2 separate regions of the Homo sapiens genome follow, and region 1 is linked to region 2. The links come from fine-mapping of genetic effects on gene expression. A gene starts in region 2. The other region holds a variant in brackets. All regions are shown on one strand. Distances are between the middles of the regions. Region 1 has its middle 51 kb from the start of RANBP9. Region 2 holds the start of RANBP9 (RAN binding protein 9).

Region 1 (8,335 bases), 52 kb before region 2:
CTTCTTTTGTCTGATGCCCACTGCCCGCCTGTAGTCTTAGTACCCTAACTCACCAAAACCCTCTACTTTCCAGAAAGGGACAAATCTCACCATTGATGGCTTCATTATAAAAGTGGGATTTAACAACAGAGACCTGGATTCAAATCCTAGCATGGGCCGGCTACAGTGGCTCATGCCTCTAATTCCAGCACTTTGGGAGGCTGAGGTGGGAGGATCACTTGAGGTCAGGAGTTCCAGACCAGCCTGGCCAACATGGTGAAACCCCGTCTCTACTAAAAATACATAAAATTAGCCAGGTGCGGTGGTGTGCACCTGTAGTCCCAGCTACTTAGGTGTCTGAAGCAGAAGAATCGCTTGAACCCAGGAGGCCGAGGTTGCAGTGAGCTGAGATCGTGCCACTGCACTGCAGCCTGGGTGACAGCGCAAGACTCTGTCTTAAAAAAAAAAAAAAAATCCTAGCGCATCTGCTTCCTAGTTGTCTGAACTAATCTCTCCTGTGTAAAAGTAGGGATTATAATGCTTACTGTATCTGGTAGCGTGCTTTCAGCGGCAACTAACGGAAAAGCCAACTCAAATGAGTTTAACCAAAAAGGAAATGTATTGGCCTATGTAACTGGAAGTTCACAGATGGGACAGGCTGATTGAACCCTGGTGTCAAGGACCTAGGTTCTTTCTGCATCTCTGCTTTCCATCCTCAGTGTCAGCTGCCTTTTAAGCCTGGCTCCCTTCATAGTCAGAATGGCTGCCACAAAGACACAGGGCCACTCCCTTAACCACAAACTAATAACTGACATCAAGGGAATGCTATGTGCTGATTGGCTTGAGCCTAGATTCCTAAGTCAATCACGAGTAAGAAATAAAAATGAAATTCCAAGCCCCTAACTGACTGAACAGACCCCTTCTTGGCCAAGGGAATCTTGCAAGCTGAATTCACGGCCATGAGGGGATGGGAGATTGGACACGCCTCATTATACCCCCTACCTCTATAACAGCTATTAGGTTTTCTTCCCTCAGGGCTAAACAGAAACCAGCCCTTTCAAAAGACTACTAGTTTATCTTTCCAGGTACAGAACAAAGACACCTTCACCCCTCCTCAGACATCTTCTTCCTCTATTCCCTTTTTCTTCAAATGTTCACCTTATCTTAGGAAAAATGAGCACCAACTAAAGTCTCACAAGTATGTAATCATTTGTCTCATGCCCTGCCCCACTTTCTTCAGGAAAATGTATAAATGCTAAACCTCCTGAGACCCTCTTTGGAAAAAACAGCCACAGATGCTTCTGTGACTCGCATTTTTCCTGGGCACTCCCTTTAAGCTGCCTTGCTAAACCGCAATGATTCGAGACTTATTCCTCCATCACTCATTTTCGTTGTCACTAGCAAGGAGGGATAGGATTACCGTGACTGGTACAGACACCTGTGGTTCCCAAACATGAGCACGCATCAGAATAACCTGAAGGATGTATCAGACCCCACAGATGATGGCCTCAGCTGGAGTTGTTTTTTTTGTTTTTTTTGTTTTTTTTTTTTTTTTTGAGGCGGAGTCTTGCTCTGTCGCCCAGGCTGGAGTGCAGTGGCATGATCTTGGCTCACTGTAACCTCCGCCTCCCAGGTTCAAGCCATTCTCCTGCCTCAGCCTCCAGAGTAGCTGGGATTACAGGCGCCTGCCACCATGCCTGGCTTTTTTAATTTTATTTTTATTTTATTTTTATTTTTTTTAGTAGAGATGGGGTTTCACCATGTTAGCCAGGATGGTCTCGATCTCCTGCACTTGTGATCCGCCTGCCTCAGCCTCCCAAAGTCCTGGGATTACAGGCATGAGTCACCACGCCCAGCTGGCCCGAGTTTTGAATTCAGTAGGTCCAGAGAAGGGCCCGAGAATTTGCCTAACAAGTTCTCAGGTGACAATGATGCTACCACACTTTGAGAGCTACTAGCATAAACTAATCAGGGGAACCTGTAGACTGGGGTCAGTTCCTCAAATGGCACAGCGAGGAAGCAGTAAAATTGATGTTGGAGAGTTAATTGTGAGCTTCAAAACCTTGTAGCAGGCTGGGCACAGTGGCTCACGCCTGTAATCCCAGCACATTGGGAGGCCGAGGCAGGCGGATCACTTGAGGTCAGGGGTTCAAGACCAGCCTGGCCAACATGGTGAAACCCTGGCTCTACTAAAAATACAGAAAAATTTAGCCGGGTGTGGTGGCACACACCTGTAATCCCAGCTACTCAGGAGGCTGAGGCAGGAGAATCACTTGAACTCGGGAGGCGGAGGTTGCAGTGAGCTGAGATTGCGCCACTGCACTCTAGCCTGGGCAACAGAGCAAGACTCCATCTCAAAAAAAAAACAAAGAAAAGAAAAAAAACAGGCCGGGTGCGGTGGCTCACGCCTGTAATCCCAGCACTTTGGGAGGCCGAGGCAGGCGGATCACAAGGTCAGAAATTCGAGACCAGCCTTGCCAACATGGTGAAACCCTGTCTCTACTAAAAATACAAAAATTAGCTGGGCATGGTGGCACACACCTGTACTGAGGCAGGAGAATTGCTTGAACCCAGGAGGCAGAGGTTGCAGTGAGCTGAGATCGTGCCACTGCACTTCAGCCTGGGTGACAGAGCAAGGCTATGTCTTGGAAAAACAAAACAAAACAACAACGAAAAACCTTGTAGCATAAATACGGGATTGTTTCAGTTGCATATTGCTGTGTAACAAAATACCCCCAAACTTAGTGACTTAAAATAGCAATTTTTTACTATTTCTGATGATTCTGTGTGTTGGCCGGGCCCAGTTGGGCTGTTTTCACTTGGGGTCTCACATGTAGCTATTCTCAGAAGTTGGGTGGGCCCCAAACCATCCACAAGCTACAAGGAGCTGGATGTCCAAGATGGCTTCTACATTCACACATCTGGCTAGAATAGCTGAGGGCTGGCCAGGCATCTCTTTCTCCACTCAGCTACTCCACATGGCTAGCTTGAGCTTCCTTACAACATGGTGGTTTCAGGATAATTGGATTTTGTATTTAGCAGTTGACTTTCTCAGAATGAGCATCCTAAGGGACCAAGGCAGAAGCTGTAAGGCCTGATTTAGCCTTGCAAAGGCCACACGGTACCACTTCTGCCTCATTCTGTTGATTACGAAAGAGTCACAGGGCCCACTCAGATTGAAGGGAAAGCCCCCACAGAAGGGCATGAATATGCAGAGGCAAGGGCTATAGGAAGCCATCTTGGAAATTAGCTTCTGCAGGGATTAAAGGAGATCATTCATGTGGAGTCCTGAGTAAGAACGAAAGTAACGTATTTACCACAAGTAAGTGCTCAGGAAATTAGCATTATTATTATTATTGCTGTTCTTTTCAGGGGAATTTGCCTATTATACTTTATCTGTTATTGAGGAATTTAAGGTTTTCTCAACTAGAAAAGGATTTTCAGGCACTAGCCAGAAGGTGAGGCAGTATTTTCTTAAGAGTGATCTTGTCAGTATCCTCAAAACTGTATAAACAACTATTTCTTTGACCAGGAGTAAGACCTGTATTTTCAAGTATATCAGCCTATGCAGTGGAAATGTTTCTTTTCTATTGGTTTCCATGTGGCTCCTACATTAGAATTTGGCTTTTGATGAGACATTTTTATTCAGACTCTTATAGATGAGCTAATTTTACTAATAATTATGACAGTGCTTTTAATACTGCTATATTATTAATACATCAGTATTTAGATAAAAGATAGTTCTCAAATGTCCTGTTGCACATTTCAGTTCTGGAAAATTTCTAGAACAACAATTTATCAAGACACTATCACTCCCATTCAGCCATCTCTATTCTGAGGACAAATACACCTTGCAAATTTGCATAATATCATGCATCACTTAGTTTCAGAATGGTCTCATACATAGAATGATTTTTCTTAATTTATTTCTGCCAAATGTGTGTGTGTGTTTGTGTGTGTGTGTGTGTGTGTGTGTGTGTCTTAGCTACTGGTGGTTTTTATTTTCCTTTCCCTTAGAGTGTGAAAGAGAGTTGTTTTTTTATTTAACCTCTTGATCAAGGAAAACTTGAGGGGCTTTCCTTTTCTGCATGTTGTTGGGGGTCGGGGAGGAGCAGGTGTAAGCTGTAAGAAAAATCTGCTGGTCCAGAGGGAAAAAAACAAGGAGCGCCTGAGGAGCCAGGGTGTTCTGTCTGTTCGCTAATGTACCCATGCAGCCCTGCCAAGCTCTGATGTGTTTAGACTTGAGCTTCAAGGGGGAGATTGCACAAAAGCAAGTTCCTGGGATTTGTTCTGCAGTCTGAGTAGGCTGG[G/C]GTGTTCTCACTGAGCTATTTCTGTATAAAAAGCTGTCTGGAACCATCTGAGAAGCCACTAACCACTGTGGTTTACTGGAATATGCCTTCTATTCACTCTCTGTTGCATCATTTCCCCTCCATTTTATGCTCAAAAGAACGACTGTGTGTGTCCATGTATACATCCATGTGCGTGTGAGTTCCAGAGTTGCGTTGCCATGGAGTTATTTGGAAAAGGCATCTTGTGAACCACTTGAACTGAACATACAAAAATGCATCTCAAAAATCAAAGCTGCTCTTATATGCATAGACTCTTTCTGGAAGGATACACAAAAAAATTCATAACAGTAGTTGCCTGGGGGGATGGGAACTGCAGGGGGGAATGCTGTGAGGGGGGTATACTCTTCACTGTGCACTGCTTAATTTTTTTTATCATGAGCATGTAATAGATTTTTTAAAAATGAAAACTGGGCCAGGCGTGGTGGCTCACGCCTGTAATCCCAGCACTTTGGGGGGCTGAGGCAGGCGGATCACCTGGGGTCAGGAGTTCAAGACCAGCCTGACCACCATGGTGAAACCCCGTCTCTATTAAAAATACAAAAATTAGCCGGGCCTGTTGTCGGGCGCCTGTAATCCCAGCTACTCAGGAGGCTGAGACAGGAGAATCGCTTGAACCCAGGAGGTGGAGGTTGCAGTGAGCTGAGATCACGCCCATTGCACTACAGCCTGGGAACAAGAGTGAAACTCTGTCTCAAAAAAAAAAAAAAAGAAAGAAAGAGAGAAAGAGAAAGAAAGAAAGAAAGAAAGAAAGAAAGAAAGAAAGAAAGGAAAGAAAGAAAGAAAGAAAGAAAGAAAGAAAGAAAGAGAAAGAAAGAAAGAAAATGGATGTTTAAATACTAAGGCTCCTCTTGGGAAATATTCCCTGACTCAAATATCTCTCTTGACTCCTGCACCCAACTCCCCAGGAGGAAATTGGGAATCTCTGAACAATCCGTGGGCTGAATACGAAGGAATCTGCCTGGCTTCTTGGATACACACTTCATACTCTCAAGGACAGCCCTCTTTATTGGAATGCACAAAGTATGTGGAAAAGAGATACCATGTCTTGTCGGATTCAATTTTGCTCCTAACATAGTGTGGATTAAAGAGTAATCAATAGTGACTTTAAGCACATTCTTTCCGGCAGTATCACAGAGAAAATGCAGCTGGTAGTGAATGTACCAGCCTGCTGATTGCAGGGAGCTAAACATGTGTATTGTATCTCCAGATGCCTGACACTACCTGCCAAGCCAACATGAAGCACCCACCCAGGTTGGACCAGGAAGCTTCCTACCTGGTCACGTAGGAAAAGACTAAACACATTCATAACGTGTCTATACAGGTATTGATTCTCCAAGAGATGATGGATCAGGCTTCAGAAAGAGTGGTGACCTTATTGTATGTTTCTGTATTATCTTTGCTGAGCTAATGGCCCACTTCCAGACCAAGAGCACAAATTACAAATGAATGCCCCCAACAGCAGTTCCTTTTCCATCTTTACTATACGGGGAGCCCACTAAAATAAAGGCTGTCAATGCAGCATCTCTCATTGACAGTCTGTTCATTGTGGGCTAACTGGATTGTACTGGACAGAGTTCTATTCACTGGAAATCATTAGCCAACTCCAGAGGGAGGAAAACGGAATAAAAAGGAAAAACATTGCCCATCACGAAAATAACTCGAGAATTGTGCAATCTGGCAACATTGGTCATCTGTGTTGAACTTGCTTTCAGCACTCTGTTAAGTGTACTGTACCACACCCTACCTCTGAAGCGATTACTCCCTTCCTTTTGAATAGCAAAGTAATGGGAACTGGAAAAACTTCTGTGAATTTGGCAAGGTTTAGTATAAATGTTTCCATTAAATCTGGGCAAGGCATGGATGGGGGAGGGAAACGCATCCACCGATTATGCTTTTGTGCTACCTCTTGGTTGAGGGTTACCTTTCAGAGGTGAAGCCAAACTTTTCCCATCCTTGAGATCATGCCTAGACCTAGTATACTTGGCTGACAATATGATTTTGCTACACAGCTTATATATCGTTCACATATGTTTGGAATTATCATGGAACTTCATGTTGTACTGAAAGGTTTCCCACAGCAAATTCTTTTGCACATAGAGCTACCTAGTGTCAGAGTTTCTTCCTAAGGACACCACACTTTTCCATTTAACACAACAGGGCAGGTGCTTCAGAGGATTTCAGTTCAGTCGGGAGAAATTTACTGACTGTTTTCATACATGTTCATGTCTTGTTGCACAGCCACTCTGCGAGGCTGACATCATTGACTTAACTTTACCAGGGAGTAAGCCATTGCTCAGGGAAGTGAGTGACCTGCCAAGGCTGCCCCACTGGTACATGCCAGAGCTGGGACTCACACCCAGGTCGTTCTGGCTCTTATGGGAGCTTCCTCCCCTGCAGTAAAGCCCTCTTTGATGCTGAAGGTCAAGGTGTGGCTCATAGTTTGGACAGGGCTTTTAGGGAGCCTGGCCAGACCCTGGAGGGACGTTGATGAGAATGGGGACTTGGAGTGGGAGAGTTTCGGTAATCCACCACACAAGTGCACCTGGAGCCTGAGAGGTGGGGTTCCTCCAGCTTAAGGGCAGGTATGGAGGGACTAAGCCACAGGGTAGGACTTTAGAAAGACTGAGGAAAACACAGGTGGGCCTTTAGTTGTGGAGGATATAAAGGAAGCCATGATGGCATTGACACAGAATCAAAGGTATCAAAGGGGTCAAGATGAAAAGCTTCAAGGCGAAACTTTCATCACAGGGGCTATGGTGGTGAGCCAATTACTGGAATCAGGTCACAGCAAGACCAGCACCAGCCTGACTCGGTACTAAGCCTCTACTATGTGGCAGGCACTATTCTAGTTATTATGGAAGTAGCCATGAACAAAGTAGATCAAGTATCTGCCTTCGTGAAACTGGAGTATAGTGAGAGAAGATGAATAAACAAGGAAATATATATCTAATTAGGTTAAATACTATAGGGAAAAAAGCTGCATAATGGAGTTCGTCGTGCTGGTGACGGTGGTGGTGTTTGCTATTTTACATAAGGTAGTGAGGGAAGGCCACAGGCCATGGGACATTTGAGCAGAGACTTGAAGGAAGGGAGAGGGTAAACTTCCTGAATACCTGGGAGAAGAGCTTTGCGGGCGGAAGGAACACTTACCGCAGAAGCTTTGAGATCAAGGGTACTTGGGGTGTTTTGGTATAGCAAAGAGATCAGGTTCACAGGTCAGGGAAAGCAGTGTCTGAGATGATGGTTGGCACACATATGATGCTTACTAGGAAGTGCTCTTGGGATCAAACCATGGAAGGGAAAGAGGGGCAGGAAGCAAGACTGGGCAGAGGGGGATGAGCTGTGATGCAGTCTCAACTAAAGCCCCAGACAACCCCATGGGGATGTTGAAGATAGGATGGCCCTTCAGAGCTGCTCTGAGCTGGGGAGAGGGGACAGGCCTTTACACCTCCAAACCATTCAGCCACTGGATACTGGCTACGTTGAGAAGGGAGTGAGATAGGGTGTTGAGGGGGACAGCGCTCTCCAGCCAAGGCCACCTCAGCATCCGAGGGGTGGCAGCCAGGAGCACGCCTCAGCTCCTGAAGGACGCTCTAGGCAGCACCTGCTGGTGGGATTGGAGCTTGAGCCAGGAGGCAGGGACAGAAGATGAGCTCAGGGAGGTGTCCAGGAGCCAGACTGGGGGAGCCACTGTGGGCCATGGTAAAGACATGGCCTTCTCTTCCTCATGAGGTGGGGAGCCATCGAAGGGTATGACAGAGGAATGCTAAAGTCTGGCTTCTGGGTTAACCTGATCACGCTGGCAGCTGTGTGGAATAGACCGCAGACGGGCGAGGGGGAAGCACGCAGGCTCACTAGGGGGTGCCTGTAGTCCTCCATGAAAAAGGAGACCAGTGTGTAGCTGGTGGCGGGTGTGAACAGTTGTTGGATTCTGGATATATTTTGAAGACAGAGCCAATAGGATTTGCTGATGAATTGGATTTGGGGTGTGAGAAGGAGAAAAAAAT
Region 2 (8,335 bases):
CCTCTTTCCTAGTATCTTTCCTAGTATGGAAAATCCTCTACTGTGGGCACCAGTGGCCCTTTTCCACTAGGGCAATGTGTCCTAAACATTTTCATGTTATGCCATGCACAGAAAATAAGATGTGTATGGTACTCTGAATGCACAAGACTGCTCACTGTTGGAAGGGACCAGTTCTGGTGGCTGTAACCACTCAAGGCCCACCCTGAGCTGAAGTTATCAATAACGTAGCATCTCTGTAACCCAGTCACTGGATAACCTGGGAATCTCTGCTTGCTGGTGTATTCTGGCATGGGCACACAATCTAGGCTTGGTGACTTTGAAACTTGAGTGAGTGGTGTAAAGGCTGGAGGTCAGAGAGATAAGAGTCCAGGTGTTGAAGGTGACATCTGGCAGTGATTTCTGTGATCAGTGCTGGGGTCCAGGCCAGTCTATTTATGCAGCCTCTCCTCCTTTGGCCATTGTCAGTTTTCAGGCCTGCTTGTCCAGCCTTCTGGTCAATTCTGAGAACCATCTAATATCTTTCCAGTAAGTTCCTTTTTTGCTTAAGAGAGCCAGAATTGGTTCCTATTGTTCGATACTGAGAAACCCAGCAGATACAGATACTGGGTAATATTAGAGCAATACATGGTAAAGACTGAAAACATAGGTTCAAGAAGGGTGTGGATATGTTCATGGCTAATGGATTTTTACTATTTACATATCTATGTACAATTCTATTATTTTCATAATAAAAGTACATTACTTTTAATAATGCATTATAATTGTCCATTATGGAAACATTTTACAATTTTTCCTTCATGTCTTTTTGGTAATGATTTTGGCAGTGCTATAATTATCGTATTGCCTCTTTTCATTTAGCATATCATAATCATTTTTCTATGTCTTCAATAACATATTTTTAAGAGGCCATAAAATATTTGTTTCAGGCTGTGCCTGTGCAAGAAGCCTGGAGAGAGTGGGTCTGAAGGTGGGCCCAGGATCCACTAAGTCAAGAGGAAGGGGTGCCTTTTTCTAATTGGTTGACCTCTTTTGGCACTTCCACTGCCCAGAAGGGATACCTTAAAAAAAAATGGCACGAATGTGCTATATGTGCTCCTGTAGCATAACTCCACTGAGTGGGGTATGTGATTAGAATTTCACATGTGACTAGAATTTCTTCTAGTCTCTTCCGGTTGGGCATTTGATTTGCTTCTATATTTAATCTACCATTAATACTTCTTGTGGAACATTTTTCAGCCTAAAGTATTTTCATATTTAGATTGTGTTGTTTGGCTTTTTGATAGATAAGTCAAAAGGTATGAACTCCTTTATGTCTCCTTATAAATATAACCAAGTATGTAGCTTTCCAAAAGGACGTTATCAATGTTCTCTATCTCCTTCTATATGAGAAAGTACTCATTTCACAGCATCCTCCCCCACAACTGAAATCATTAATTTCTTGATGGAGAACCACCAGTCCCCCTTATAAAATGCTTCCAACAAAATGTTAGACAATTCTATTCCTTCAGCTGTTCCTAAGATACGGAAAGTTCTAGATAGTTCCTAAGTGTGCTGACAGAAAAAAAGTACATCTTCAAAAGTGTTTCAAGAAAGTTTAATGACGTCTGGAGCCCATTTATTCTAACATGGCTATCGTACATTTAAATAGAGCTTGGCTTACATTGAACTCATTGTTACTGTAATATAAATGAAAGTGTTAGAACACTGTAAATACAGTGACATCATGTGATTCAAAGTGCAGTGGTTTAAAAAAAGTCATCAAACAACAGGTTAAAATTAATGGATATTTCTATCAAACTACAACAGAGGCCAGGCATGGTGGCTCACGCCTGTAATCCCAGCACTTTGGGAGGCTGAGGCGGGTAGATCACTTGAGGTCGGGAGTTCGAGACCAGCCTGGCCAACATGGTGAAACCCCGTCTCCACTACAAGTACAAAAATTAGCTGGGTGTGAGCACATGCCTGTAGTCCCAGCTACTTGGGAGGCTGAGGCAGGAGAATCGCTTGAACCCGGGAGGCGGAAGTTGTAGTGAGCTGAGACCACACAACTGCACTCCAGCCTGGGCGACAAAACAATAATAATAATAATAATAAAAGTACAACAGAACATCTAGTTGTCTGGGTAACTGAGGGAGAAATTAGGCCGAATGACTCTGTTATTTGTTCTGGCCAGATAATCTTGGCCTTAAATTAAATCACCTTTGGCCTACCTTCTTCAAAACGAAATAATTTTCTCTTCGGCAAAACATTTCTTATTTGACCAAATGATTACCATCATATCTTTGGAAGCAAACAAAATATCAGAATTTACATCACACAATTTACATATGCAAAGCCTGATTTTGCCAGCTAGGGAGGGATAAGCTAAACAAAGGGAAGTGGTGAAAACAAAGTAGTAATGTTATGATGGGTCAGAGAGCAACACTTGGCAAGTTGTGCCAAATTAGTCGACGAAGCATTCTATTGGGAATTGCAAAGTAGGAAGTCCTATTTTTGACTCTGCTGATCTCGGTAAATATTTCCTTGTTTTAAAAATGGGCATAATTTTCTGTTACCTAAGAACCCTGTTATGAAAATTAACGAGTCTATAAAATGTTCTGACGTCTCTAGAAGCCCTTCCTAAACACACACTATAATCTTGTATTCATACAGTGCCTGCTCCTGCTTTTTGAAGATATGCCGGTCTTTATTAATGACATCTTCTACCACTGTTAAGTTCACTGTGAGTCCTCGTAAAATTAATTAATGAAACAGTCACTATTCTAAGTGGGAGACTGCCTTCAGAAGTGGTTTCTACTGCCCATATGGTCAATGCTACGGAATTAAACACTGAAGTACCAAAGGCAATGCGTTCCTCTTTGGAGGGAGGCGGCAAACGGGAACGGGACTGAGGCGAGAGCTAGCAGCACTGCGCGGGGAGCCTGAGCCGCTCCGCACGCCCCGGGCCGACGGGTCCTAGAGCGCCCCGGGGCCTGGGCTCGCGGCGGCCCCAGCGGGGCTCGATTACTCTCGCCTGGACGAGAAGCGGCGCCTCGGCTCCGAGGAGCCCTACGGTGGGGAGGTGGGGCGACGACAACAAAAAGAAGTCAAGTGGGAGGGGATTCGCCGGCGAGGGGGGCGACGGCGGCCGCCAAGGGAGAGGAGGCGGACACCTCCGAAGGGACCTGCGGCGCCGGGAGCCCAGCGATCCTGCCCACGAGCGACTGGCGGGCCCGGGAGGACGCCTCGCGGCGCACAGCCGGGAGCCCCGCGGCCCGCCCCCTCGCACCGCTCGCGCCTCTCTCGCGCCTCCGTCCCGCCCCCTCGCCTAGCGCCGCCCGCGCGCAGCGTCTCGCGCCGGCCCGGCCCGCCCGCCGGGAAACAGCCGCGAGAGCAGCGGCCGCGGCGGCCGCCAGCGCGCCTTCCCCTCCCGCGCTCCCGCGTCGCCCCCGCCCTCGGCGCCTCGTCCCCGGGCCGCGCGCCCGCGCTCCGGCCAACGTTCTCTCCCGGCCTCCCGGGCCCGCCGCCTACTCCCGCGTCTCCGAGCTCCTCAACCGCCGCGGTCTCCCTGGGCGCGCGGCCCGCCGCCTGCTTCCGGGGCGGGCGGACTGGGCGCCTGGTGCCGGCGGCCGCAGCGACAGCGCCCCCGGGAAGCAGAGGAGGAAGGAGAGAAGAGGTGGAGGTGGCCGCAGGCTGAGTCGCGGCCGGGATGTCCGGGCAGCCGCCGCCGCCGCCGCCGCAGCAGCAGCAACAGCAGCAGCAGCTGTCGCCGCCACCGCCGGCGGCCTTGGCCCCAGTCTCCGGAGTCGTCCTGCCGGCGCCCCCGGCCGTCAGCGCCGGCTCTTCTCCGGCCGGCTCGCCCGGCGGCGGTGCGGGCGGCGAAGGCTTAGGGGCCGCGGCGGCCGCCCTGCTCCTCCACCCTCCGCCGCCGCCGCCCCCGGCCACCGCGGCCCCGCCGCCCCCGCCGCCGCCCCCGCCTCCCCCTGCCTCAGCGGCTGCCCCCGCCAGCGGGCCGCCCGCTCCCCCGGGCCTTGCAGCGGGCCCCGGCCCGGCTGGAGGAGCCCCGACCCCAGCTCTGGTGGCGGGCAGCAGCGCCGCGGCCCCCTTCCCTCACGGGGACTCGGCCCTGAACGAGCAGGAGAAGGAGTTGCAGCGGCGGCTGAAGCGTCTCTACCCGGCCGTGGACGAACAAGAGACGCCGCTGCCTCGGTCCTGGAGCCCGAAGGACAAGTTCAGCTACATCGGCCTCTCTCAGAACAACCTGCGGGTGCACTACAAAGGTACTGGGCGTGTGTCCTGCGGTGGGAGTGGGGCACTGACCCGACGTGGCCGGCCGCCGCTGCGCCGCTCTCGACCCGCCCCCGACCCCCGCCCTCGCGGGCTCTGCCCTCGGAGGCCACTCGCCGCCTGTTGTGCTGCTCCGGGTGGGCGCGGGGGTCGCGGTGAAGGGTCCGAGGGTGAGGGGCGAGATTCTTGGAAAAGGAAGGTGAGTAGAATGCCCCAGGGTAGAAAGGAGCTGGTAATCCTAGACCAGGAGCAGGACACCTTGAGGGAATCCGGGATGACAGGACAGAACTGGCTTTCTGATTTCCCTGGGAGATAAATCTTGGGGCTTGGGTAGAGGAATCCATGGACTCGGAGTTGGGTTACATTGTTCTCCAGGTGGTGGGTCAGGCGTTCTCCTCTTACAAGGGGGGAAGAGAGGCACGATTCTGAGGTATGATTTCTAATTAAGAGAGAGCAGGGATACACAGGGGGAGGAGTAATCAAAATTAGGCCAGAGATTGTCTAGGGGGACAAAAGGACAAGGGGCCCAAGTTTGCCATCAATATATTTTAGTAAAAGCAACCGGGAGGGTAAGAGAAGGGAACCCCAGGAACACCCTTTTTCTTAGGGGAGCAGAAACCTACCCCTCCCGATTGGAAGTGCCCTATACAGGTCCTTAGGTGTTGATATCACATGAAGTCTTGTTGAAAACGAAGATGGAACAAAATGCAGCTTAGTATTTTGAAGAAAATTGGCTTATGTTTTGCACTTGCAGTTAAAAACAACAACCTTAGGCTTGTGCTTGCCCCTTTCCTCCCTCACCTACCTCTCCTAGGTTAAAACAAAGCTGGAAGCAAATCAGTTGTATATAAAATTATGAATTGCTATGGGAACTATTGAAATGTAGCCCAATTTAATAGCATGTATCAAGTTTACTTGTGTGGAAGAAAAAAAAATCAACCTAACGTATCAGTCTTGTCTGGAAACAAATCCAGGGTTTTAGGCCCCAAACCTAAAGCAGAAGCTTTTACATTCACGGCAGCCTCACTTTGATTGGCTGTAAAGGGGTCTACTCAGATCCTAGTGACATGTATGTAGAGGAGATAAACAACCTTGTGGTTAAATTCTTAACTTATACGGGACTGAAATTTGAGAAGAAGCTTGATAAGTAAGTTACTATTTAATCAGAAAGGCGAATGGCAATAGAAATCTACCAAATGATTTGGCTGCAAAGAATCACGCACAAAAATAGGCCTTGTTGAACATTCTTTTTATTCTCGCCATACATCCAAAGAAGTACTTCCAAGTGTTATCCTCCTTAATCTAAACGTCTGAACGTTTCATTCACAATATCAAATCTTTGTTTTTTCTCAAGTTAGGACCTTTTGTTAATTTCCTTGTGAAGTATTTCTACTTTTATGTTTTAATTTGTGTGAACGGTGCTATGTTATGAGGTGTTTACTTCTGATCTGGCTGCCAGAAAGCTATTGTTAGATGTGACAGAATTTTATAATTTTAAATTTATGGTTGACAGTAAATAATTTGCTCATAAAGTCAGAGCCAGTGTAGATGAACAAAGAATTCTAGATTTCCTGAGTTCTGCAGTTGTTTGTGGTTGTAGATATTTTACAAGACTGAGCCTCAGTTTCTTCCTCTGAGTGGTGTGTAAGTTGAGCTGGACGATTGGTAAGGAAATTTCCAGCTCTGAATTTCCGTGATGTCTAAGATTCGTGATTACTGTTTATTTAGTACTGTAAGGTGTCTTGATTAGTTTTAGTCTTTTACATAAAATTGATGATTAGGTCAGAGAAAAATACACGTTTATATGAAATTAGTTGGAGTTTGGAATATTTCTGACACTGCTGTCTCAGTTGTTTTTATTCTTGGCCTCTTTATTACTTTCTGTTGTGTAATACTAAGGTTCACTTTCTGGGAACATAACTGTTTTATAAACATAAATCATTATTTCTGGAAGAACAGATTTTGTTGTTATCCTTTTATTTTTCCTCTCTTCTATCTTTCCTTTGTCTCTCTCTTACCCCTTGTCAGAAAGTCTTTTTCCCTTTCTACTGCCTCTTCCTCTTGTCTTGTTACTGTAGACTGTGTGTGTGTGTGTGTGTGTGTGTGTGAGTTTTCCGTTGTTACTGTTGATTTTCTGCGTGTTTTGTGAGAGGACCACGCCGATTGTGGTGGGCAACTGTGTCCCAGTAGCAGTAGCAGTAGCAAAGGAGAAGTATCATAGAGAGTAGATAATACTTTAAAATCACAGAATAAGAAGAGTGAATTTTTATTTAACCTATCATTGTGCTGCATTGGTTTTACCTAAGTATCATGAGACACTTTTAACAGTAAAAACTACTATTCATATATTCACGTATTACAGAATTTCAAAAGAATGATTTTAATTATTTTCCAGAGTGACGAGAATTTTCCTTATCTTTGAAATAGAAGTATTTTGCTTTCTTTTGCTCCAAAGGTATTCTGGTTTTTTGTTGTTGTTCTGGTGTTTTTGTGTATGTGTGTGTGATAGGATTTCAACTTTGTTGCCTTGATGGAGTGCAGTGGTGCGATCATGGCTCACTGCAGTCTAGACCTCCTAGGCTCAAGGGATCCCCCTGCCTCCATCTCCCAAGTAGCTGGGACCACAGGCTCCTGTCACTATGCTGGGCTAAGTTGTAATTTTTTTTTTTGTGGAGATGGGGTCTTACTGTGTTGCCTAGGCTAGTGTTGAATGTTTGGGCTCCAGTGATCCTCCCACCTTGGCATCCCAAAGTACTGGAATTACAAGCCTGAGCCACTGTGTCCAGCCTGTATTCTGTTTTTAAGATGTTCTTCTAAATTGAAATTACTGCTTTTGGAAGCAGTATTGTTCCTGAAATGATTTGAAGAGATTAATGTTAGATAATACTAGACATGCAGATAAGGTTGATTGGATTGCAGAGGAACAACAGGGTATGTATAGTATATGTGAAATTTTTTTAAAGGCCTTTTGCTTAGCAGTCACACAACAACTATTGAAAAACCCAGGGATAGCCCCTCTTATTTTTGAAATTGTTGTCAGTATTGAATAAGTACAAATGTGACAAGTTTAGACTTAGTTATAATGATAACGGGAAAATAATTTTAATAAATATGACAATGGACTTAGTTTAAATGTTTCAACAACAGATTGCATTTTTATATTTTTCTAGTTATTACCACTATTTGGATATTTTATAGAGTGCTTTATATATACACACACTAGTGGATCTGGACAAGATCCTGGAATTTTCATTTTAAATTTTAGAGAGTGGTAGAACCTGGAGGTTAGATCTTCCCAGTCATGAGTAAATCAGGATTGAAAATTTTCACTAACTCCAGATTTAGTGTTCTTTTCACAATCCCATAGTATTGCCTCTTTAAGTTCATATGAGACTTAATTATCTCAAGTAGATAAAATCCTGTGATCACATTTAGAACTTTTAAAGAATAGTTGAGATTGAAAATACTTACTCTGGGGGAAAAAGGTAACTGGAACACAGTGCTTCAGAAAAGTCCAGACACCTTGATTTTACTAATTTAGAACAGTTTAGAAGAAATCCAAGGTAAGTCAAAGTTGGGAATTATAGGAAGCAATGAAATAGTCAATTTCAGTGGGTGTGGTGGCTTACGCCTGTAATCCCAGCACTTTGGGAGGCCAAAGTAGAAGGATCGCTTGAGCCCAAGAGTTCTAGACCAGCCTGGGCAACATAGTGGGACCCCGTCTCTACCCCTAAAAATTAACCGGGCTAAGTGGCACACACTTGAAATCCCAGCCACTTAGGAGGCTGAGGGAGGAGGATTGGTTGAGCCCAGGAGGTTGAGGCTTCAGTGAGCTATGATGGCCTGGGTGACAGAGTGAGACCCTATCTTAAAAAAAAAATAAGTAAATAAATAGTGAATTGCATTTTTTTTTTTTTTTTTTGAGACAGAGTCTTGCTCTATCGTCCAGGCTGGAGTGCGGTGGTACAATCTCTACTCATTGCAGCCTCTCCTGGGTTCATGCAGTTCTTCTGCCTCAGCCTCCTGAGTAGCTGAGTAGCTGGGATTACAGGCGCTTAGCACCACGTCC

The links.
Region 1: its variant is fine-mapped to the expression of RANBP9 in aorta (GTEx, PIP above 0.99).

The regions. Positions count from the first base shown.
Region 1 is chr6:13,758,806-13,767,140 of GRCh38, reverse strand. No RefSeq gene overlaps it. Among named protein-coding and RNA genes, the nearest start is that of RANBP9, 51 kb to the right of the region's middle. RefSeq lists a silencer at 1,854-1,953. The variant G/C (reference allele first, on the strand shown) is at 4,290.
Region 2 is chr6:13,706,859-13,715,193 of GRCh38, reverse strand. RANBP9 (RAN binding protein 9) reads left to right here and starts at 3,359. Exons shown (of 14, transcript NM_005493.3): 1 at 3,359-4,259. The coding sequence starts at 3,689. It overlaps LOC124901264 (a long non-coding RNA gene), which reads left to right and starts at 2,440. Exons shown (of 2, transcript XR_007059462.1): 1 at 2,440-2,511; 2 at 2,653-2,842. RefSeq lists silencers at 2,855-3,624, 3,785-3,904, 3,985-4,034, 4,295-4,414.